Linked DNA regions of Homo sapiens: all the other regions are linked to region 1. Evidence: fine-mapped expression QTL. A gene starts in region 1. Each other region holds a variant in brackets. All regions are shown on one strand. Distances are between the middles of the regions.

Region 1 (4,088 bases):
GTCCCACTCTGTTGCCCAGGGTGGTCTCGAACTCCTGAGCTCAAGGGATCCTCCTGTCTCAGCCTCCCAAAGTGTTGGGATTACAAGGCATGAGCCACCACACCCATCCCAAAATTTTTTACATAGTTCAACCTGAGAAGTTATGAGAATGTATTTATGAACAAATTGAACTTGAATGAAAGCAAAGGCCACAAAGAAGAAAGCAGGCATGCCATCTCTCCAGGTCCTGTCCACATCTAGGATATAGAAAAGAACAGATCTACAGACTCATGCTGAACCCAGTTATTGATCATCTCCAGACCTGCTTTACAATACCAACCTATGTGTAATTCTCATATTCCACCTTCAAACAATACATTAACAACACTTGCTCTATAATCCAGCAACCATATCAACTTAATCAGAAAGCACCACCTCACTTCTTAGAGGAACACAAGAACTAGATTTTGTTATGACTAAACTAAGGAGACAAAATGCCAGCCTTTAAATAAAATATCCACCATGATATCACCTCTTAAGAGTTATTCAAATCTCATCAGCACACTTTCATCAGGCTCAGACAGGCACATCATGACACAAAGCGGAATGTTCAATGGTGGCAGAACAGCTGCTCAGAGCAGTAAGAGATATGAGCAAGGGATCTGTTGACAATCTAATTTCAGCTACCTCGAGATTCCACAAAGATGACAGCCTGCGTCCTCAGAAATGCCGCCACTAGCCTCGCCCACTATCAGAATACTCTGGTTTACTTCTTCTCTGCAAGTCGAGCGACTCTGAAAATCTATCCATCCAATGCTCTACGGCTACTCGAGGCCTCCATACTGATACAGTGGCCTTAGCAATTCTCAGATCGGCCTATGCACATGTAAAGCATCAGCAGGCCTTTCACAGCCCCCGCACTGGACGCAGAAGATGAATAGAGAAACACGGAATTTCACCCCAACAAGAATGGAATCTTGAAGGCAGTTTACCTTGGAAGCTCATTTAGCAATCAAGGAAAAAAAAAAAAAGGGATCTGGAAGCTCCATTCTGGCGTTAGGGGCGGGAATGTTTTGTGTTGCATGAACAATGACTAGCTTGCTCAAGCAGCCTCCCAACCCCCACAACTTGGCTTCTGGTCTGGCCAGTCACCCTGAAAGCTGCCAGGGCTGTCACTCGGTGCCTTCCAACAACTGGACTTGGCTCCTAAAGGATTTGTCAGATCATCCTCCCAATATGGCTGCCCGAGTAATCCCAGTCGGCTGAATGCCGAGACCACACCAGCCTTCCTCACACCTGGCCAGCATCCAACAAGCCCCCTCCCTTCCTATCGCACCCCTCTTTCCAGGCCTCGAGCCCTCGGCTCCCCCAGCGCCAAGCGATGACCTTTCCTATCGCCATCTGGCAAAGGGCATAACCACATTCCCAGCCGAAGCCCGATGCCCACCACAAAGGAGGAAAGGGGAGAGGGAAAATGAGAAACGATGGCTTCAAACGAAGCACAGCCGCCCCCCGGGCTGCAACGTGCGCGGAGCCCAGGGAACGGCCAGGCAGCGGCGGGTCTGGAGAGCGCTGGGCACAGCCGGGGCCTGGCAGCGCGGGGGAAACGGAGGGCCGGTGCAGGGCACTGCGGGGGCCCCAGCCGACCGCTGGACGCCGGCCCGGGACTCGCTGCTGGCCTAGGGAGGGGTCCCCTCCCCCGAGGGCGAGGCTCCCGCACCCGGCGCCCGTCCCGCGCTACCTCCCCTCAGACCCCGCCCGGACCCCGGCCCGGCCGCTCCTCCCCGCGGAAGCGGCCCCCTCCCCAACCCCGCGACCGCGGCGCCAACCGCGGCCAGCCCCGCCGCCTTACCTCAGCCGCGCTGCAGACCGACGGGCGGACCGGGTCAACAGGAGCCGCGGCGCGCGGGGGCGCGGGGGGCCGGGCACCGACGCACCTCAGCGCGAGCAGCGGCCGCCGCGAGCCGCAGGGCGCCGCTCCGCAGCCCCATCACGCAGCAGCCCGGCACCGCATCGAGGTGGGAGGTGGGCGGTGGGCGGCGGACAGGAGTGCGCGAGTGCGGGAGGCCAGGGCGCGGCGACGGCCGGCGGTGACGGCTGCGGAGGACGGGGAGCTGCTCCGACGCGCGCGGGCGCCTCCCAGGACCGCTGCCGTCACACTGCCCCGCTTCGGCCCTCGCGAAACTCCGCCCGCAGTCGCCGGCGCGGGACACCGCCCCGAGCTGGGCCTCTGCGCGTCACCTCGTATCCGCCCCGGCGCCCGCGACGGACACGGGCTGTGACCAATCACAGCACAGAGCTCGGGGCGGCCAGCCAATCGTAGGGTGAGCCGGGGAGTGGGGCTGCTGCGGGGGGCTGCAGGAACATCGAGCGCCCCCTGGTGGCCCTCGGGCCGGCTCAACCAGGGGTGCGGGCTGGCCAAAGCCGGAGCCCGGAGTTCCCTCCCGGGTGACCCCCAAGGGCATTCGTCGGAATCAGCCGCCCCCAGCCACCCCGATAATCCGCCTTATACGGGGACAAAAGATTGACTGAGTGGAGCGGGGCGGGGCCCAGGGGTCCTGACGCCCGCAGAGGAGCTGGGATCAACATGGGAGGCGCCGAGAGTGGAATCATTGTCCGTCGGAAAACATCTCGCAGGCGGAACCGGCCGAACGCGGCGCGGTGGGAGCGGAACCCCGAGAGGGGATGAGCGCATCCCGCGGGAAGCTGCCTGGCCTATTCTTACAGAACCCGAGCAAAACACCTCCCACGCGCCACCTCGGGAGAGAAGGCGGAATGAGTAATGGAAAAGCATGACTTGGTGGGCATTCCACTTGTCTCCTTGGGAGACCGCGGAAGGGCTGTGAGGAGAGGAACAAACGCTTTGCACCGTCCCTGAGTTAACGAGCCCAGCCCCCTTCTGGGAGATGCCCTTGAAGGAGGGAGAGTGGAAGTTAGAAACCCGGAGGACACAAAAGCACGAGCAGTGATTTCTTTAAAATCAGATTTAGATTCAGCTGGAAAGAAAAATCTCACTGTTCAGAAACTGTTCAATTCAGTACTTAACAAAATATAATCTTCAGTGATAATATATTCAATTATCAGGCCCAGGCCGAGCACTATTACTTTATAAGGTTGTGAATTATTTTTATTTACTAGCAGACATTGAAAGTAAAATCACATGTCTTCCCCTGAATTAAATACAGTATTATTGTGAGTAAAAGGTATTATGTACAAGCATATGCACTAAAACATCGAAATTAATTTTCTACACTAATAATTCTGGAAAATCTCCACCACCACTCAAGTCCTCAGACTCTTCATCCGCTTTTATTGATCACGTCTCATTTTATAGAATTTAAGCTCCACCTACCTGCAAAAGGATTTGACATAGCTTACACTAAAGCATACAGCAGTGAAACCGTATAGCTTTAAAATAGGCGTAAAATTCATAATAATGAAACAAGCAAGAGACTTTTTAAAAGCTGTTTGAATGAGAGGCATGCCTAGAAAGAAAAATTTTTTTGTTTTGTTTTGAGACAGAGTTTTACTCTCGCCCAGGCTGAGCTCAGTGGCACGATGTCAAATCTCTGCAACCTCCGCCTCCCAGGTTCAAGCGATTCTCCTGCCTCAGCCTCCCGAGTAGCTGGGATTACAGGTGCCTGCCACCACGCCCGGCTAATTTTTGTATTTTTAGTAGAGACGGTGTTTCACTATGTTGGTCAGGTTGGTCTTGAACTCCTGACCTCAGGTGATCCACCTGTCTCAGCCTCTCAAAGTGCTGGGATTACAGGAATGAGCCACCGCGCCCGGCCAGAAAAACAATATTTTAAAAATCCATAGTCAAGGAAATATGTTGCCACTGAGCACAGAACTCAGCTCTTAGCTTCCTGACGGCTAAGAGTAAAATGAAACTATAGTAGGTTAATAAAGAGGAACTCATCAATTCAACAGTAGACACCACTTCATCATAGCGTGGACCTCCTTGCGTAAATACTGTGGTGAGCGCCATGGAGAGTTACGAAAACCTGGGTGGCTGTATTGCTTGAGCTCTCAATGGAGCACAATCTAAAAAGAATCTAAAACGTAGTGAAGAACCAGGCGCGGTGGCTCACGACAGTAATCCCAAC
Region 2 (4,088 bases), 270 kb after region 1:
AAGCTGAGAGAGGAATCAGACTCATATTCTGTTCTCCAGAGTTTAGTCAGAGGAGATAACGTATTATAATAAAATCATATATAATTAAAGGCAGAAATAAGTGCTAAATAGAGAATAAGATTTGAGCTGGGCGCGGTGACTCACGCCTGTAATCCCATCACTTTGGGAGACTGAGGCAAGTGGATCACCAGAGGTCAGGAGTTCAAGACTCGCCTGGACAACATGGTGAAACCCCATCTCTACTAAAAATACAAAAATTAGCCAGATGTGGTGACGCATGCCTGTAGTCCCAGCTACTGGAGAGGCTGAGGCAGGAGAATTGCTTGAACCCAGGAGGCTGAGGTTGCAGTGAGCCGAGATCGCGCCACTGCACTCCATCCTGGACGACAGAGCGAGACTCCGTCTCAAAAAAAATTTTAAAAAAAAAGATTTGAATGCTAAAGAAGAAGCAATCAATTCTCATTATTCATCTACCAGTTGTTTATTCGGCACTTTTTGTCTGTCCAAGATTGTGCTGGATGCTGGTGTATAAAGAAAAGGTAAAGGCCGGGTGCGGTGGCTCACGCCTGTAATCCCAGCACTTTGGGAGGCCGAGGCAGGCAGATCACGAGGGCAAGAGATCGAGACCATCCTGGCCAATATGGTGAAACCCGTCTCTCCTAAAAATACAAAAATTAGCTGGGCGTGGTAGTGCGTGCCTGTAATCCCAGCTACTTGGGAGGCCGAGGCAGGAGAATCTCTTCAACCTGGGAAGCGGAGGTTGCAGTGAGCCGAGATCGTGCCACTGCACTCCAGCCTGGCGACAGAGTGAGACTCCATCTCAAAAAAAAAAAAAAAAAAGGTAAAGGCTAGGCACGATAGCTTACACCTGTAATCCCAGCATTTTGGGAGGCTGAGGCAGGCGGATCACCTGAGGTCAGGAGTTTGAGACCAGCCTGGCCAACATGGTGAAACCTCATCTCTACTAAAAGTACAAAAATCAGCTGAGCGTGGTGGCGGGCACCTACATTCCCAGCTACTCGGGAGACCGAGGCAGGAGAGTCACTTGAACCCAGGAGGCAGAGGTTGCAGTGAACCAAGATCATGCCACTGCACTCCACCTGGGTGACCGTGAGACGCCATCAAAAAAAAAAGAAAGAGGAAAGAAAGAACGAACGAACGAAAGAAAGAAAAGGTAAAATCCCTACTTAAATAATTCACAACCTAGTGATTGGGAGGAAATCAAGGAAGACCTTGTAGAGAAGGTGACACTTGAACTAGACTTTGAAGAATGAACTGGGCTTCATAGGTAGAAAAAAAAATGCAGGCTCAAAAAAGTGCATGACATTTTTGGAACAGCAAGTCATCCAGTGTGGTTAGACTGTAGGAAACTAACTCTGAAAAGACATTGTCAGTTACATCTTGGGTTTGCCTTGACTTTTACTGGAAAATTCCACAGACTTAAGAGAAAAATTAAAATGGACAATTTCCAGGAAAAATCCACTAAACTATTATACATAAGATGTAGCTACAATAAATTACACTTCTGGGTATAATACTTGTTTATGTTTGCATATCATTAATGATCATAGATGACTTATGCCAATTTTAATAGATTAGGTAGTAATTTTTTGTCATTATATTTAATTTTGAATATACTGTAAGAATCCTCTCCAATGAAGTACACATGTCAAATCATCTGGTAATGATTTCATTATGTGTAGGAAAATAAAACATGCTTTAATGCTGTGTGCGGTGGCTCACGCCTGTAACCCCAGCACTTTGGGAGGCCGAGGCGGGCGGATCACGAGGTCAGGAGATTGAGACCATCCTGGCTAACATGGTGAAACCCTGTCTCTACTAAAAAAAATATACAAAAACTAGGCCGGGTGCAGTGGCTCACGCCTGTAATCCCAGCACTTTGGGAGGCTGAGGTGGGCGGA[T/A]CACGAGGTCAGGAGATCGAGACCATCCTGGCTAACACGATGAAACCCCGTCTCTACTAAAAAATACAAAAAAAATAAGCTGGGCGTGGTGGCGGGTGCCTATAGTCCTAGCTACTCGGGAGGCTGAGGCAGGAGAATGGTGTGAACCCGGGAGGCGGAGCTTGCAGTGAGCTGAGATTGCTCCACTGCACTCCAGCCTGGGCGACAGAGCAAGACTCTGTCTCAAAACAAACAAAAAACATGTTTTAATAAGTTACCTGGAAAGTTTTGTGGTTTGTTTTTTGTTTTTTGTTTTTTTTTGAGTAGGAGTCTCACTCTGTCTCCCAGGCTGGAGTGCAGTGTCACAATCTCAGCTCACTGCAACCTCTGCCTCCAAGGCTTGGATGATTCTCCCACCTCAGCCCGCCAAGTAGCTGGGACTACAAGCACACACCACCATGCCCAGCTAATATTTTAATTTATTGTAGAGACGGGGTTTCGCCGTGTCGGCCAGGCTGGTCTGTAACTCCTGGTCTCAAGTGATCTGCCTGCCTTAGCCTCCTAAAGTGCTGGGATTACAGGTGTGAGACACCATGCCTGGCCCCAGTCAATAGGATATTTAATGAAACTTGACATACTGATTGTTAAATTCATCTGGAAGAGAAAGTGCACAAGAAGAGCCAAGAATTTTGGGGAGGAGAAAACAATAAAGGCAAGTCATTATCAGTTATCGAGATATATCAGTGATAAAGCCATAATAATGTAAATAGCAAGAAATGTTGCCTGAGGGCTGGACACAGTGGCTCATGCCTGTAATCCCAGCATTTTAGGAGGCCAAGGCCAACATGGCGAAACACTGTCTCTACTAAAAATACCAAAAAAAAAAAAAAAAAAAAAGGCAGATGTGGTGGCACACCTGTAATCCTAGCTACTCAGGAGGCTGAGGCAGGAGAATCACTTGAGCCCAGGATGTGGAGGTTGCAGTGAGCTGAGATCACATCACTGCACTCCAGCCTACTGCACTCCAGCCTGGGTGACAGAGCGATACTCTGTGTCAAAAAAAAAAGAAAAAAAAAAAAGCCAAGTGGGGTGCCTCATGCCTGTAATCCTAGCACTTTGGGAGGCTGGGGTGAGTGGATCATTTGAGGTCAGGAGTTCAAGACCGACCTGGCCAATATGGCAAAACCACATTTCTACTAAAAATACAAAAATTAGCCGGACGTGGTGGCACGCACTCAAGAGGCTGAGGCAGGAGAATTGCTGAAACCCAGGAGGTGGAGGTTGCAGTGAGCCGAAATCGTGCCACCGCACTCCAGTCGGGGCGACAGAGCAAGACTCAGTCTAAAAAAAAAAGAAGTGATTCCTTAGGAACAGAAAATTATCAATGACTAGCCAATTGCCCTAATACCCTTTACTAGTCAGTCTTTTATTTATTAATCAATATGCCACCTTTATTGTAGACCAAATTCTCCTGGATCAATAAATAAAAGACTGATTAGTAAAGGGTGTTTTTGAAAGGAAAGTTAGACCCCTACTTCAAAGCATAACAAAAAATGTTGCAGGTGGCTTTTGTCTGCAGCTAGAAAACAAAAATTTGTAAAAGTCTTGAATATAAAGATGTATAAATCTTGAGATGGTTAGGGCCTGCCTTCATGGGTCACAAAACGAAGAAGATTTAAAGGAGAAGATAGATTTGTCTATTAAAAAATAATAATTTGCCATGACAAAAAAACATAAAATTTAGTCAGGAGACGAAATAATATTTGCAATTACAAAGGCTTCATTGCTTGATCTTAGGAGGTCAAAGCTGCATGAGCCATGATCATGCCACTGCACTCCAGCCTGGGTGACAGAGCAAGACCCTGTCTCAAAAAAGCCAAAGGCTTTGTATCCATGTTATAAATCAGTAAGAGAAAGATAACCCAGCAGAAAGATGGTCACATTTCCAAAGAAGAAATTCATATTAAAAGATGTTCATCAGCTGGGCTTGTGGGCTTACACCTATAATCCCAGCATTTTGGGAGGCTGAGGTGGGAGGATCTCTTGAGCCCAGTTCAAGACCAGCTTGGGCAACATGGGAGACCCCATCTCTACAAAAAAATAAATTAGCCAGGTGTGGTGGTGTGTGCCTGTGTTTGCAGCTACTCAGGAGGCAGAGGTGGGAAGATGGCTTGAGCTCGAGAGGTT
Region 3 (4,088 bases), 870 kb after region 1:
GGGCGAGGCCGGAGCTGGCAAGAGAGTGGCCAGGGCAGCATCTGGCTGTGCCCCCTGTCCTCCCCAGCAAGTGCTGTCCTGGGTGGCCTTAGGTACACTGACCCCCACAAGTGCTGTCCTGGAGGGGCCTTAGGCGCAGCCAGGATAGCCTAGGCATGGATCCCCAACTGCCTCCTGTCACAGCACACCCAGAGCCCCCATACAGTCACGAACCTCCTCCCTGGGGACAGGGTCTCCCCTGGGCAGGGGCACCCCACAAAGGGGTCCTGGGGAGCCCACGGCCAGGGCCTTGGCTGTCTCCCAGGTCTCCATGAGCAGAAGCCTGAAGAAACGGGGTAGGGGAGAGCTGAGTGGCACCCCCCAACCGCCAACCTCCATGTCTCCAGGTCTGGGGGGAGGAGCGAGGGGACAGGGGACCTGCAGGGAGAGATGTTGGCCCCTCCCCCATCTGAGCACTCAATGTCTTCCAGGAACCAATTCAAACCTGCTCCCTCTTCCCTGCACCCCAGCTGAGGAGGTGGGGACATCTCCATCCCTGCCTTTTTTCAGAGACAGGCTGCTGACCTTGGCCAGAGCGTTGGCAGCAGACCCACGTCCCTTCCTCACCGGAAGAGCCACCAGGTCACTCTCTTAAGTTACCCCTCCCGCCCCTAAAGGTGCTCTTGGGTCTGTTTTTCCCCATGCTGATCTTCGGCTAGAGCAGCTGCCCTGGCTTCATGGGGCGTCCCAGGAGAGACAGAGACAGAGTGAGGGAGCAAGAGAACGAACGGAGGCAGGGAGCAGGGAGGTTCATCCTTACCAGCGGCTCTGCAGCCTCCACGGATATTGGCTCAGGGCCCCGGTGGCCAGGGAGTCCCCATCAGGAGGGTGGCCTGAGGCTCTGAGCGGATGCCACCCCCAGAGAGGCACCTAACTGGGGACCCCACCTCAGCAAGGCTGGAGGCGCTGCACTCACAGCTGAAGGGGAGAAAAGCCCGCAGAGGGCTGGGGTGCGAGGTTAGGGTGCACCCCTCCCCTACCCCCAGCCTCACCCTGTTCTCCCATCCCCCCAAAGAGGGCTTCCTGTCCCCAAACCATGGAGGCCTTAAAGTTAAAACGAGTGAACAATCTCACTGGCTAGGTGGGCAGGTGGCTGGCCAGGTGTGAGGTGCCTGCCCTGGCCACACTCCTCCCCTGAGTGTCAGGAGCCCTCTCCTCTTTCCCCCACTGAGCCCCCGTCCTTGGCCTCTTAGAGGGACTTCAGGGCCAACTCTTGTCCTCCACTCTGCCTTGGAGGGGGAAGGCCATTGAGCTGGAGCTAATCCCGGGGGTTAGAGGCTCAGATCCTGACTCTGATGTGCTGGTAACATAAATGGACCGTTTCTAGGACAACCAGATGGAAACGACCAGAAAGCACCCCTTCCCCTCTCATGTAGGCCCCTTGTCATCTCTTCTCATTGGGACAAGCAGAACTGATGGAGGAGTTTCTTAGAATGCCAGGAGCATTTGGGGCAATGATGCCAGAGAGAGCT[AGAAACATGGTCTG/G]CAGCCAGATGCCAAGGGCCTTGAATGCCACGATAGGGAGTCAGGCCCCAGCACTGTGAAGCGGCCCCTCAGTGGGGACCAGCAGGCACCAGAAGGGGAGGTGCCAGGTTAGAAGGCTCCTTCCCCAAACTCACCCGTACCCGCCTGGGTCTCTGGACAGGGACTATAGAAAGAACTATAAATGGAGATGGAGGGCTAGTGTCCCCCTCTTTCCAGGGAGCAGTGCAGTTTCATCACCGAATGAAAAGGCAGCAAAGGGCAGTGGCTCCCTGAACACAGCAACTATGCCCTTTTATTGTCTCAGAGTGAGGGACCTGCCCGAGCCGGCCAGGAGTTGCGTCCTCACTAGCCCAGCGCCACGGGTGAACTCAGGCAGCGGCCTCCTGCCCCTGCCTCTGCCCCAGACTCTTCCTTGAACGCACGCGGGCAGAGGATCCCCCACTCCTCTTTCTTCCTTTTGCTTTGGGGGAAGCAGTAAAGAACCAGGAGGAGGAGCCGGACGTGGTGGCTCACGCCTGTAATCCCAGCACTTTGGGAGGCCGAGGCAGGTGGATCACCTGAGGTCAGGAGTTTGAGACCAGCCTGACCAACGTGGAGAAACCCCATCTCTACTAAAAATACAAAATTAGCCGGGCATAGTGGTGCGTGCCTGTAATCCCAGCTACTCAGGAGGCTGAGGGAGGAGAATCACTTGAACTCGGAGGCAGAGGTTGCAGTGAGCCGAGATCACACCATTGCACTCCAGCCTGGGCAACAAGAGTGAAACTCCATCTCAAAAAAAAAGAACCAGGAGGAAAAATTAGAAAATTTGTTTTAAGTAAACAGAAAATTCAAAGTGAGTTAACAACCCGAGAAATAACATTTCAAACCAACAACATGAGAGAGCACTGCTCACTTTCCACCTACAGAGACGAGAACAATAAATGCCTACCCTGGAAGCCTGCAGAGAGCCTCAGAGAAGAAAATGGACAGACACGAAGAGTCTTATGGTTCCCAGCACACACTAGGTCCTCAAACAGTGCTGGATGCTTACACAGCTCTGCATGGGGCATCTCTGAGTACCTTGTACTTGATATGTATGAATGCATTAGGTGGTAGCTATCGTTACTACTGTGCACATTGACATTCGGAGGGTAAAAACTCCAAAGATCATCGTCCAGCCACTGATCAAGGGACCAGAGAACCACAACATTCTTTCTTTCTTTTTTTCACAGACAGGGTCCTGCCCTGTCGTCCAGGCTGGAGTGCAGTGGCACGATCATGGCTCACTGCAGGCTCAACCTTCTGGGCTCAAGTGCTCAAGTGATCTTCCTGCCTCAGCCTCCCAAGTACCTGGGACTACAGGAATGCACCACCATGCTCAGCTAGTTTTTTAGTTTTTGTAGAGATGGGATCTCCCCCAGGCTGGTCTTGAACTCCTGGGCTAAAGTAACCCTCCCACCTTGGAATCCCGAAGTGCTGGGATTACAGGCGTGAGCCACTGCACCCGACCCCACAACGATCTTTTTTTTTTTTTTGAGACAGAGACTCGCTCTGTCACCCAGGCTGGAGTGCAGTGGTGTGATCTCAGCTCACTGCAACCTTCACCTCCTGGGTTCAAGTGATTCTCCTGTCTAAGCCTCCTGAGTAACTGGGATTACAGGTGCTCACCACCACACCTGGTTAATTTTTGTATTTTTAGTAGAGACGGGGTTTCGCCATGTTGGCCAGGCTGGTCTCAAACTCCTGACCTCAGGTGATCTGGCCACCTCAGCCTCCCAAAGTGCAAGAATTACAGGCGTGAGCCACTGTGCCTAACCCCACAACATTCTTTTGAGGCACAAAGATACCTTAAAGATCACCCAATGAAAATGCACCATTTTACAAAATGGTGCATTTTACAGGCCCTGTAGAAAACAATACGGCAATTCCTCAAAAAACTCAAAATAGAATTACCATATGACCTAGAAAATCCACTTCTGGGTGTTCACTCAAATAAATGCAAAGCAGGGCCTTGAACAGATATTTGTGCACCCATGTTCATAGCAGCATTGTTCACAATGGCCAAAAGGTGCAAGCAACCCGCGTCCACGGACAGATGAACAAAGAAGCAAAATGGGGCCCATCCCCACGATGAAATATTACTCAGCCTTAACACGGAAGGACATTTTGATACATGCTATATGAGTGAATCTTGAACACGTTATATGAAGTAAAATAAGCCAGTAACAAAAAGACAAATACTATATGATTGCACTTACATGAGGTACCTAAGACAATCGGATCCATAGAGACAGAAAGTTGAATGGTGGTTGCCAGGAGCTCCGGGGAGCAGGAATGGGGGGTCAGTGCCAGGAGCTCCGGGGAGCAGGAATGGGGGGTCAGTGACGAATGGGCACAGAGTTTCCGTTGGGGAAGATAAGAAAGTTCTGGAGATGGACAACGGTGATGGTTGTACAACAATATGAAGGTACCTAATGCCACTGAACTCTTAAAAATGGTTTTAAAATGGTAAATTTGGCCAGGCACGGTGGCTCACGCCTGTAATTCCAGCACTTTGGGAGGCCAAGGCAGGCGGATCACTT
Region 4 (4,088 bases), 20 kb after region 1:
CAAAATAAATGTAAAAGACTCTTGGAAAAGAGCAGTGCTGGAGGAGAGACACAGGAAGGTTTCTTGAACGGCAGGGTGACGTGTGGGGACGGCACATGGGGAATTATGGCCTACAATTTAATGCCACAAACTCTGTCCACCTCCAGCTCACCAGGCGTGTCCACACACACGCTCACCAGGAGGGCACAGCTTAGGGCCTGAGCCTTGACCTTGCTCAGTACACACTGCTGTTGCCATCCAGGTGGGTTGTAACACCCAGGGGATTAGCAGCCCCAGGAAAATAACCAGACATCTGAGGAGCAAATGGCCAGAAATTGGAGACAATAAACTGAGCAGTTTATATCAGGGGAAGCAGAATGAATGGACTGGACACAACAGAAGTTTTAAATAAGCATAATAAATATCTTCAAAGAGATAAGAGATGCTATTAGTAACAAGTAATAGAATAAGCCTTTTTTTTTTTTTTTTGATACGGAGTTTTGCTCTTTCACCCAGGCTGGAATGCAGTGGCGCTATCTCGGTTCCCTGTAAGCTTCGCCTCCCGGGTTCACGCCATTCTCCTACCTCAGCCTCCCGAGTAGCTGGGACTACAGGCGCCTGCCACTACGCCCGGCTAATTTTTTGTAATTTTAGTAGAGACGGGGTTTCACCATGTTAGCCAGGATGGTCTCGATCTCCTGACCTTGTGATCCACCCGCCCTGGCCTCCCAAAGTGCTGAGATTACAGGCATGAGCCACCACACCCAGCCTGGGTGACAGAGTCTTACTCTGTCACCCAGGCTGGAGTGCAATGGCGCAATCTCAGCTCACTGCAACCTCCACTTCCCAAGTTCAAGCAATTCTCTTGCCTCAGCCTCTGGAGTAGCTAGGATTACAGGCGTGCACCACCACACCCTGCAAATTTTTGTGTTTTTAGTAGAGACGGGGTTTAACCATGTTGGCCAGGCTGGTCTCGAACTCCTGCCCTCATGTGATCCGCCTGCCTCTGCCTCCCAAAGTGCTGGGATTACAGGCATGAGCCACTGTGCCTCACATATAATAATTTACCGAATTGTACATCTATGTTTCATTCATTTTGCTGACTAAGTGTTGAAATAGCTTGGATATTTGTCCCTGCCGAAACCTCATATTGAAATGTAATCTCCAGTGTTGGAGGTGAGGCTTGGTGGGAGGTGTTTGGGCCATGGAGGGATCCCTCGTGGCTTGGTGCCATCTCTACTTGTGATAGTGAGTGAGTTCTTACCAGATCTGGTTGTTTTAAGAGTAAGTGGCGCCTCTCCGCACCTTGCTCCTGCTGTTTCTCTGTGAAGTGTCTGCTCCCCCTTTACCTCCCACCATGAGTAAAAGCTCCCCGAGGGCTCCCCAAACACCAAGCAGACACCGGTGCCACCCTTGTACAGCCTGCAGAACCATGAGCCAATTCAATCTCTTTTCTTTATAAATCACCCAGCCTCATATATTCCTTTACACTGCAGAGGTGTCCAATCTTTTGGCTTTCCTGGACCACATTGGAAGAAGAAGAATTGTCTTGGGCCACACATAAAATACACTAACACTAACGATAGCTGATGAGCTAAAAAAAAAAAAAAAAATCGCAAAAAAAATCTCATAATGTTTTAAGGAAGTTCATGAATTTACGCTGGGCCACATTCAGAGCTGTCCTGGGCTGCCTGCAGCCCACGGGCCCCAGGTTGGACAAGCTTGCTTTATAGCAATGCGAGAATGGCCTAACATAGGTGTTATACTTTATTTATTATTATTATTATTATAATTATTATTATTTGAGATGGAGTCTTGCTCTATCACCAGGCTGGAGTGCAATGGCGCGATCTCAGCTCACTGCAACCTCCGCCTCCTGGGTTCAAGCGATTCTCCTGCCTCAGCCTCCTGAGTAGCTGGGACTACAGGCGCACGCCACCATGCCCAGCTAATTTTTGTATTTTTAGTAGAGATGGGGTTTCACCATGTTGGCCAGGATGGTCTCGATCACTTGACCTCGTGATCTGCCTGCTTCGGCCTCTGAAAGTGCTAGGATTACAGGTGTGAGCCACTGCTCCCAGCCAGGTGTTACACTTTATAATAAAAAGATGGGGCCCAAAGATAAACAACAACAAAACAAACAAACAAACAACAACAACAACAAAACAAAGAAAAGGTGGGCCAGGCACAAGGGCTCACACCTATAATCCTAGCACTTTGGGAGGCCGAGGCAGGAGGATTGCTTGAGCCCAGGAGTTTGAGACCAGAGTGGGCAACATAGTGAAACTCCATCTCCACAAAAAATACAAAAAATTAGCCAGGCGTGGTGGTGCACACCTGTAGTGCCAGCTACTCAGGAGGCTGAGGTGGGAGGATCGCTGGAGCCTGGGAAGTTGAGGCTGCAGTGATCTGTGATCATGCCACTGCACTCCAGCCTGGGCAACAGAGTGAGACCCTGTCTCTAAATAAATAAATAAATAAATAAATAAATAAA[A/TAAAA]TAATTAAAATAAAACTGACTAGGAAGTAAGTTCTAGAATAATACAAACAAAAACCTAAAAAACACGAGAGAAAGGGCAGAAAAGCACATACAGAAGGATAGATAGTTTACAAAGGGAGAAACCTGTGTGGCTAGTTCTAGTTTCTAAGACAGCTGCAACAAGACCTCCAGTCCTCCGTGCTATTCTTGAAACATGGCATTGAGACTCCTCCCTACTGAGAGGTGGGGTCTGTGTTTCCTCTCCTGGAAACCGAGCATGCCTGTGGCCACAGCAGAAGTGATACCATAAGACCTCTGGGCTGCTGGGCCATAGAAACCCAGCTTCTGCCTGGTCTTCTCAGGGTGCTAGCTCTCGGAACCTAGCTCCAGAGAGGGCACACCTGGGTGTGCCAGCCAACAGCCAGATGTGAGTGAGGAAGCCCTAAGGGTGACTCTAGCCTCAGCCACCATCTGACGGTAACAGTGTAAGATCCCTGAGTGAGAACAGCCCAGTGAGCTCAGTCAACCCCAAAACCATGATAGACATTAACAATTTCTTTTTTTTTTTGAGACGGAGTCTGTCGCCCAGGCTGGAGTGCAGTGGTGTGATCTCGGCTCACTGCAACCTCTGCCTCCTGGGTTTAAGCGATTCTCCCGCCTCAGCCTCCCAAGTAGCTGGGGTTACAGGCACCCACCATCATGCCTGGCTAATTTTTGTACTTTTTGTAGAAACGGGGTTTTACCATGTTGGCCAGGCTGGTCTTGAACACCTGACCTCAGGTGATCTGCCCGCCTCGGCCTCCCAAAGCAAAGTGCTGGGATTATAGGGGTGAGCCACTGCACCCAGCCCATGATAGATATTAATAGATTCTGTTTTAAGCCACTAGATTTGGGCGATTAAGATTTAGGTCTTTGGAAGTGGGTGCTGTTGAAACAAAGTATAATGCATGTGGCATTGGCTTTGGGATGGAGTTAGTAGGCAGAGGATAAAAATGTATTGAGAACACCGTTAGTGAGGCTTATAGGAAAGTGAGTAAATACTGTTGGAAACTGCAGGAAAGGGGACCTCTGTTACTTAGAGGTGGAGATTTTGTCAACACCGTTGTCTGCGGTGACTTGGAAAGGAGAAAATCTGCCAAGTGAACTCAATGATCTATGTCAGGAGATGTGAAGGCAGAATAATGAAATACCATTTGGCTTCTTTCATTGCCTGTAGAAAAATGTGAGATGAACTGGCAAAAAAAAAAAAAAATTTAAAAAATTAAGAAATGGCTTCTGGTCAGAAATCAAAAACAGTGCACTTTCGGGACGATATCTAAAGATGGGGTAAAAAATGTGACCGCAGGCCGGGTGCGGTGGCTCACGCCTGTAATCTCAGGACTTTGGGAGCCTGAGGCAGGGGGATCACCTGAGGTCAGCAGTTCGAGACCAGTCTGGCCTACATGGTGAAACCCCGTCTCTACTAAAAATACAAAAATTAGCTGGGAGTGGTGGCTCATACCTGTAGTCCCAGCTTCTCGGGAGGCTGAGGCAAGAGAATCACTTGAACCTGGGAGGCGGAGGTTGCAGTGAGCTGAGATCACGCCACTGCACTCCAGCCTGGTGACAGAGTGAGACTCAGTCTCAAAAAAAAAAA
Region 5 (4,088 bases), 150 kb before region 1:
CACACATCTCTATTATATGCTTGTGACCTAATATTCTGCAACCTTTATATTTTTTAATTTTTTAATTTTTTATTATTTTATTTTATTTTTTGAGATGGAGTGTCACTCTGTCGCTCAGGCTGGAGCACAGTGGAGCTATCTCGGCTCACTGCAATCTCCGCCTCCTGGGTTCAAGCAATTCTCCTGCCTCAGCCTCCTGAGTAGCTGGGATTACAGGCGCTCGCCACCACGCCTGGCTAATTTTTGTATTTTTAGTAGAGACAGGGTTTCACCATGTTGGCCAGGCTGGTCTCGAACTCCAGACCTCAGGTAATCCACCTGCCTCAGCCCTGCAAAGTGCTGGGATTACAGGTGTGAGCCACCATGCCTGGCCTAATTTTTGTTTTTGTAGAGACAAGGTCTCACTATGTTAGCCTGGGCTTGTCTTTAACTCCTGGGCTCAAGCAATCCCTTTGCTTCAGCCTCCCAAAGTGGTGGGATAATAGGCATCAGGCACTGTGCCTGGCCCTGTAAGCTTGTTGAGGGTAGGAACTGCGTCTTTTTATTTCTACATTCACAGTATTATCACAGGCCTTCAAACACCTCGAACAAAGGTGTTGAAAATGAATAAACCGAGAGGCTAGTTTGTGGAGCCTTGTGGGAAGACGTTCAGCAAAGAGGAAGGGATTCACACCTTGGTAGCCAGCTCTTTCTCTCGGTCCACCAGGCTTTCGATGTCTCCTGAATCATAGCCACTGCTCTCGCTAGGTGTGATGGCGCTTTCAAAGGTAGTGGTTGAGATCTGAGAGGAGATACTGGTGGAGGTGCTGAGGGTCCCACTGCTGAGGCTGGGGGATAACGAGTCGCTCAGGGATTTGGGGATGCTGTCACCAAGTCTCTCACGCAGCAGCAAAAAGTGGCGGGTTTTTTCCACCTGAGAAGATCAATACTACTGCTATAGCAAACACAAAGCTCGTTAAGACCTCAGGAGAGAAAAGTGAAAAGCTATGATCACATGCAGCAGCGGGGAGGAAGACTGATACTTTGGCAATCTTGTCCGAGAGTTCTTGCATCTGAACAACCCTGCCCCTGGATACCTCATGTAGGAGCTCCAGCTTCTCCAGCTCCCACTGGTGCTCAAGGATGAGGCTGTCTCCACGGGGCCGCCAGCCTGCTAAGTTCTCTTCTCCCCGCACATATGCCACTGACGTATCTAAGATTTTTCTTCTCCTTCTCTGCATACCTAAGACAAGAGGAAACAAGTTTTTGTTTCAGAAAAAAAATTCAATTCCAAGTTTAGGTCAAAACGAATTAATAATTCTTTTTTTTTTTTTTTTGAGATGGAGTCTCGCTCTGTTGCCCAGGCTGGAGTGCAGTGGCGTGATCTCAGCCCACTGCAAGCTCCGCCTCCTGGGTTCATGCCATTCTCCTGCCTCAGCCTCCCGAGTAGCTGAGACTACAGGTGCCCGCCACCATGCCCAGCTAATTTTTTGTATTTTTAGTAGAGACCGGGTTTCACTGTGTTAGCCAGGATGGTCTCGATCTCCTGACCTCGTGATCCACCTGCCTCAGCCTCCCAAAGTGCTGGAATTACAGGCGTGAGCCACCGCGCCTGGCCACGAATTAATAATTCTTATACGTAGCAAACTAAGACAGTTTGGTCTGAAGATATATGGGATTTTGTTTAAATAGCAAAGCAACTGAACGTTTTTAAAAACTGAGTTTTACATTCTTTGATAATTATGAAGACTGGGATGCAATTTAAGAAAATGATAAAATTATGATGTTAGGTGAAAATGCAGAAATATTAAATAGTCTGTAGTAGTCTATACACTATGGGGCCGGGCGTGATGGCTCACGCCTGTAATCCCAGCACTTTGGGAGGCTGAGGTGGGCTATCATCTGAGGTCAGGAGTTCGAGACCAGCCTGGCCAACATAGTGAAACCCCATCTCTACTAAAAATACAAAAATTAGCTGGGCATGGTGGTGGGTGCTTGCAAACCCAGCTACTCAGGAGGCTGAGGCAGGAGAATCACTTGAACCCAGGAGGCAGAGGTTGCAGTGAGCCAAGATGGCGCCACCACACTCCAGCCTGGGTGACACAGCGAGACTCTGTCTCAAAAAAAAAAAAAAAAAAAAAAGATCCTGTCCCTAAAAATAAAAATTTTTAAAAAGACGGAAGGGAATACACACACACATACACACACTCAGTAGCTCACTGGCTGACAGATGACAGAGAACTTTAGCCTCTATTATTTCCTGTTAATTTTTTTTAGTATTATGCTGGTTTTACATATTAAATACATGAATTTATATTAATTAAAAAAATTCCTCAAGAAACTATCTGGATAGTATAATAATTAGGTGCTACTTGGATTCATACTCAAAGTCTTCTTTACTTATCTAAGTCT[T/C]GCCTGTGGGCCCTGACTTGTTTTCCATGTATATTCTGTAAAATGACTCAAACTCACATTAATCAAATGCTATTAGAAAACCTTAACTTTTGTTCATGTTTCGGTTTACAAACATAGAAATGCTAAGTGCTGCTTAACTCCGCCTAGCTAGAGGAACAAGAGCAGTTTAAAAACACATTAAAAAGAATACAGAACAAATCTGACTTAATAATTTGATTTTTTTTTCTTTTTCTTTTTTGAGACTGAGTCTCACTCTGTCACCTAGGCTGCAGTGCAGTGGCACAATCTCGGCTCACTGTAACCTCTGCCTCCCAGGTTCAAGCAATTCTCATGCCTCAGCCTCCTGAGTAGCTGGGATTACAGGCACGCGCCACCACACCTGGCTAATTTTTGTATTTTTGGTAGAAAGGGGGGCTTCACCATGTTGGTCAGGCTGCTCTTGAACTCCTGGACTCAGGTGATCCACCCGCCTTGGCCTCCCAAAGCGCTGGGATTACAGGTGTGTGCCACCGTGCCCAGCCTAAATACAGGATACTTGAAACATACACAAAGATAACTATCACCTCCTCAATCCACAAGAGCTTACCTGGACTACCTGTGTCTGACATTTTGCATAAGCTGAGTTCGTAAATGCCAGTGACTCGATTCCTATTTGAAGAAAATAAAACAATTGTTTAATCTCTTAAAGCACAAAAACAGGAAAATTTCAATTTCTGCTACTTAAAATAGTGTCTTCTCTGCAGGGACTCAAATATAATTCCAGGCATTTCTTATTTGTCACCGCTCTTTTCTTATTTTGAACCTAAGTAGCATACCTTTTCCTAGAGGAGTCCGCTTTCATCTCAATTTAATTTTTTTATAGATAGGGTTTCCCTGTGTCACCCAGGCTGGAGTGCAGTGATGTAATCACAACTTACTGCAGCCTCGAACTCCTGGACTAATGTGATCCTTCTGCCTCAGCCTCCTGAGTAGTTGGGACTTCAGGCATACACCACTATACCCAGCTAATTTTTAAGTTTTTTTGTAGAGATAGGGTCTCCTTATGTTGCCCAGGCTGGTCTTGAACTCCTGGCCTCAAGTGATCCTTCCACCTTGGCATCAAAAAGTGCTGAGATTATAGGCATAAGCCACCATGCCCCACCTCATCTCTATCTTTTAAACACTTTATTTCAATAGGGTGAATAAAATTGAATGATAAACTAGAAAATTTAAAATATAAATGTGAAAACTAAAAATTTGTCTTTTCTTACTATAAGAGAGACGATATGAGGGAAACAATGACTAGAATGAAATGATAATCAACAACTTCTGGGGATTGTGAGTAGTAGGAGGTATAATACCTTCTATTGTATTAGTAACACTTATTTTTAAGCTGGGCGGTGATACACAGGTATTCATTGTATTGTTTCTTTCTTTTTTTTTTTTTTCCTTTTTCTTTTCTTTTTTTTAAATTTTGAGACAGGGTCTCACTGTTTCACCCAGGCTGGAGTGCAGTGGCTCTATCATGGCTCACTGCAACCTCAACCTCCCAAGCTCAAGTGATCCTCCCACCTCAGCCTCCTGAGTAGCTGGGACTACAGGTGTGTGTCACCACACCTGGGTAATTTTAAAATTTTCTGTGGAGATGGGGTCTGTGTTGCCCAGGCTGGTCTCAAACTCCTAGGCTTAAGCAATTCTCTGTCCTCAGCCTCCCAACG
Region 6 (4,088 bases), 35 kb before region 1:
TCAAATGTGAAATCAGATAGCTAGCCAGAGGCCAAATTCTGTGAGGCTGTGTGGCCAAAGTGAGGATTTTTAGTTTTATTCTAAAAGTGATAAGGACTGGTCGCAGTGGTTCACACCTGTAATCCTAGCACTTTGGGAGGCCTAGGTGGACATATTGCTTGAGCTCAGGAGTTCGATACCAGCCTGGCCAACATGGCAAAACCCTGTCTCTACTAAAAATACAAAAATTAGCTGGGTGTGGTAGCACGCACCTGTAGTCCCAGCTATTTGGGAGGCTGAGACACGAGAACAGCTTGAACCTGGGAGGCAGAGGCTGCAAGTGTGACTAGATCATGCCACTGCACTCCAGCCTGGGCGACAGAGGCTCTGACTCTGACTACAAAAAAAATTTAAAATTACATTAAAATGAAATAAATGTGACAGGAAACCAGTGAAGAATTTTAAGCAGAGGGGTGACATGATCTGATTGCAAAGGGGTGACATAATCTGATTTATATTTCTTTTTTTTCTTTGAGACAGAGTCTCACTCTGTCGCCCAGCAGGCTAGAGTGCAGTGGCACGATCTCAGCTCACTGCAAACTTCGCCTCCCAGGTTCAAGCGATCCTCCTGCCTCGGCTTCCTGAGTAGCTGGGACTATGGGCGTGCACCACCATGCCCGGCTAATTTCTGTATTTTTAGTAGAGACGGGGTTTCACCACGTTGGCCAGGCTGGTCTCCAACTCTTGACCTCGTGATCCGCCCACCTCGGCCTCCCAAAGTGCTGGGATTACAGGCGTGAGCCACCACACCCAGCCCTGATGTATATTTCTAAAATATGACTGGCTACTGCATGGAAACAAGGGCAAAAGCAGAGAGACAGGAGGCTATTGCAGTACTTATCTTGACTAGAGTAGAAATGGCAAAAAGTAACTGATTCAGGATATATTGTGAAGGCAAAGATGGCAAGACTTACTGATTGATATATGTGGCCTATGAGAAAAACGGAGAAGGTAAGAATGACTCCAATATTTTTGGTCTAGGCAACTAAAAGAATTGATAAAAATAAAGGAGGAGCCACTCTGGGTGGTCAGGAAGGGAAAAAACAATAGTTATGTTTAGGACATGTTGAGTTTGAGATGCTTCTGTGGCCTTCAAGTAGAGTTCAGTTGGCAGCTGGGTAGCCAAGTCTATACTTCTAGAGAGAGGTCCAGGCTACAGAAGTGAATCTGGGAGTTATCACCATCTCAATGACATTTAAGCCCCCAGAACTAGAAGAAATCATCTAGGGCGTCTCTCTTTTCTGGAGAGAGAGATCTGAGGACAAAAGCCTGGTGGACTTTAACCGAAGGAGGTAAAGAATAACCAACCTGGGAGGAAGGAAGGCAATTAGGAGAGTATGGGGTACTAAGAGCCAAGAAAATGAACTGTTTGAAGTAGTCAGTCACGTTATATTCCCTACCTTTATTACAATGATTATCATCATAACCACTTACAGGACTCTCTAGAAGAATGAGTTCAGGCTATCTCCTGATTTCCCCAATAACTTGCTCTGCTCACTCTCACCTCCAGGCCTTGCCTCTTGGTTACCATCCAAATCCCATGAGGTTTCAAGGCTGTTTTCCTAAATTTTCCTTCATAAATCTAAAAGGCAGCTTTAACATCTAAGACCTAAATGTATTTTTTTCCAAGTCCAAAGGAAAAATGATCCTTCCTTTATCCTCTCCATACAACTTTTGTATCTTTTCCCTTTTGTCTTCAGGTTTTTTATTCCTAATGGTGTAGCCAACACTAACCTTAGGAGAGCTGGAGAAGGGCAGGACACTATAATTTCCATAAAGGCTGACTTGAAGACTTTTATCCAAGATAAACGTAAATGCTATCAAAATGACTATCACAAAATGTTTCAAAGGTCTTAGTTTACTGATGAACCACAACTGACCATCTTCTCTTTCTTGAAGAAGTTTCAAGTTAAGACTTAAGACAGTCTACTAAATTCCCTAATTTTACCCCCTTTTCTCCCTGCCTTATTCACAACTTTGCTACTTTAGCATAAAGATGCAGAAATAACACTTTAATTACTGAGCCCTAGAAAATAAGGCAGTCAAAACAAGATTAGTATTTAAACGCCTTTTAATTCCCCAGAATAAATTTATCTAATATCTCAGTGTCTAGTAATTATACTGTTGTTGGCAAACTACTAAAGATTTTGCCTGCAACTATAATTGATGTTATCTGTGTGGCAACACTGTAACTTTATATTAACTTTAGTAACCAAGCACGTTTAGGGCTTGTTAAAAATCCCAGT[G/T]ACATCTTCAGCACAATCTTCCGCTCTAAAAGCCTCCTAGAGCAACAATTAAGAAAAATGGCGGCCGGGCGCGGTGGCTCATGCCTGTAATCCCAGTCCTTTGGGAGGCCGAGGCGGGCGGATCACGAAGTCAGGAGATTGAGACCATCCTGGCTAAAACAGTGAAACCCCGTCTCTACTAAAAATACAAAAAATTAGCCAGGCGTGGTGGTGGGCGCCTGTAGTCCCAGCTACTCGGGAGGCCGAGGCAGGAGAATGGCGTGAACCCGGGAGGCGGAGCTTGCAGTGAGCAGAGATCACGCCACTGCACTCCAGCCTGGGCGACAGAGCAAGACTCCGTCTCAAAAAAAAAAAAAAAGGAGGGCCGGGCGCGGTGGCTCAGGCCTGTAATCCCAGCACTTTGGGAGGCTGAGGCGGGCGGATCACCTGAGGTCAGAAGTTCGAGACCAGCCTCAAGATGGGGAAACCCTGTCTCTACTAAAAATACAAAAATTAGCCGGGCGTAGTAGTGCATGCCTGTAAGCCTAGCTACTTGGTAGGCTGAGGCAGGAGAATTGCTTGAACCTGGGAGGCGGAGGTTGCGGTGAGCCGAGATCGGGCCATTGCACTCCAGCCTGGGCAACAAGAGCGAAACTCCATCTCAAAAAAAAAAAAAAAAGAAAAGAAAAAAAAGAAAAATGGCACACAATAAAAATATTTTATACACTGCTTATATTTTAAAACCATAAAACCAAAACCCACAGGCAACTCGCTCCCCTCCTCACAATATAGAAACATAGTAAAACCTATTGCCATAAAGATTTGAGCAAAAGATCTATAATCATAAAGTTCCTTAATCATTTACAACAAATTTAGTTTCCCATTTTTTTATAAAACAGGGATAAATGTACTATACATATTCACTGTATACTTGATCCCAGAGTATTAAAAAACAAATATACAATAGGAAAATAGGAAAAAAATTATAACTCTTCTATAAAACATGTTACTTAGCATACACATTGAATAAACAATCAACAATTCTGCTCTTCCTAAGCAAATTTTGAATGATTCTAAAGAGATATGATTTGCAAGGCCTAGATTTCACTCTACCTAAAATGCCCAAAGACATGTAAACTGATAATCATCTGCCCCTTCCCCGCAGCTTTTTCCTCATAATTTCCCTCCATCAAGAAAATAAATCAAAATAAATTTTAATCTAAGTTAAATTCAAATTAAGCATAGACATTCAGCATTACTGCACAGAATAGTAAAACTTAATAAATATTGTGAGAGGTGATATGCTCTCCAATAGTAAGGGTTCTGGAGACAGCCCAACTTCATTTTCTACTTCCCTCAATTAATAGATATGTGAGCCCAGGCAAGACAGCCAATAATACCTCTTTGTATCAATTCCTTCATCTGTGAAATGGGGAAAGAGTACCTGCCATATAATTATTGCAAGGATTCAGTAAGTTAAAATCTGCCTAATTGTGCCTGGCACAACTTAAGCGTTTGTTGTTTTTAATTACTAATTATGGTATTTTTTCCCCCCACTAAAAGGCAATTGTTTTTTGAGACGCAGTCTTGTTCTGTCACCCAGGCTGGAGTGCAGTGGCACGAACTTGGCTCACTGCAACCTCTGCCTCCCAGGTTTAAGCGTTCTTCCCACCTCAGCCTCCCGAGTAGCTAGGATCACAGGCATGTGCCACTAGGCCCAGCTAATTTTTTTGTATTTTTAGTAGAGACGGGGCTTCACCATGTTGGCCAGTCTGGTCTCGAACTCCTGAGCTCAAGTGATTCACCCGCCTCAGCCTCCCAAAG

Which allele goes with the higher level. Positions count from the first base shown, and alleles are read on the strand shown. Sizes are in standard deviations (SD) of each study's normalised expression. Not every link is listed here.
With allele T in place of A in region 2, the expression in aorta of the gene that starts at base 2,140 in region 1 is lower (moderate effect, 0.68 SD a copy in GTEx).

Evidence for each region. PIP is the estimated chance that this variant, and not a neighbour inherited with it, causes the effect. A credible set is the group of variants that fine-mapping cannot tell apart.
Region 2: its variant is the best candidate, but not a certain one, in a credible set for the expression of KIF1B in aorta (GTEx, PIP 0.84).
Region 3: its variant is the best candidate, but not a certain one, in a credible set for the expression of KIF1B in visceral fat (GTEx, PIP 0.59).
Region 4: its variant is the best candidate, but not a certain one, in a credible set for the expression of KIF1B in whole blood (INTERVAL, PIP 0.50).
Region 5: its variant is the best candidate, but not a certain one, in a credible set for the expression of KIF1B in tibial nerve (GTEx, PIP 0.57).
Region 6: its variant is the best candidate, but not a certain one, in a credible set for the expression of KIF1B in whole blood (TOPMed, PIP 0.54).

The regions. Positions count from the first base shown.
Region 1 is chr1:10,208,622-10,212,709 of GRCh38, reverse strand. KIF1B (kinesin family member 1B) reads right to left here and starts at 2,140. Exons shown (of 49, transcript NM_001365951.3): 1 at 1,832-2,140. RefSeq lists an enhancer at 352-1,007 and silencers at 1,909-2,428, 2,459-2,538, 2,625-2,919.
Region 2 is chr1:9,938,253-9,942,340 of GRCh38, reverse strand. The region is part of intron 2 of LZIC (leucine zipper and CTNNBIP1 domain containing); the gene reads left to right. Among named protein-coding and RNA genes, the nearest start is that of LZIC, 3.1 kb to the left of the region's middle. RefSeq lists enhancers at 2,516-3,016, 3,017-3,517. The variant T/A (reference allele first, on the strand shown) is at 1,923.
Region 3 is chr1:9,334,455-9,338,542 of GRCh38, reverse strand. The region is part of intron 1 of SPSB1 (splA/ryanodine receptor domain and SOCS box containing 1); the gene reads right to left. Among named protein-coding and RNA genes, the nearest start is that of SPSB1, 44 kb to the right of the region's middle. The variant AGAAACATGGTCTG/G (reference allele first, on the strand shown) is at 1,512.
Region 4 is chr1:10,188,576-10,192,663 of GRCh38, reverse strand. No RefSeq gene overlaps it. Among named protein-coding and RNA genes, the nearest start is that of KIF1B, 20 kb to the left of the region's middle. RefSeq lists an enhancer at 2,976-3,025. The variant A/TAAAA (reference allele first, on the strand shown) is at 2,474.
Region 5 is chr1:10,362,234-10,366,321 of GRCh38, reverse strand. KIF1B (kinesin family member 1B) reads right to left here. Exons shown (of 49, transcript NM_001365951.3): 41 at 2,978-3,039; 42 at 1,077-1,222; 43 at 674-913. Among named protein-coding and RNA genes, the nearest start is that of PGD, 35 kb to the left of the region's middle. The variant T/C (reference allele first, on the strand shown) is at 2,392.
Region 6 is chr1:10,243,171-10,247,258 of GRCh38, reverse strand. All of the region lies in intron 2 of KIF1B (kinesin family member 1B), which reads right to left. Among named protein-coding and RNA genes, the nearest start is that of KIF1B, 35 kb to the right of the region's middle. RefSeq lists enhancers at 2,139-2,638, 2,639-3,140. The variant G/T (reference allele first, on the strand shown) is at 2,286.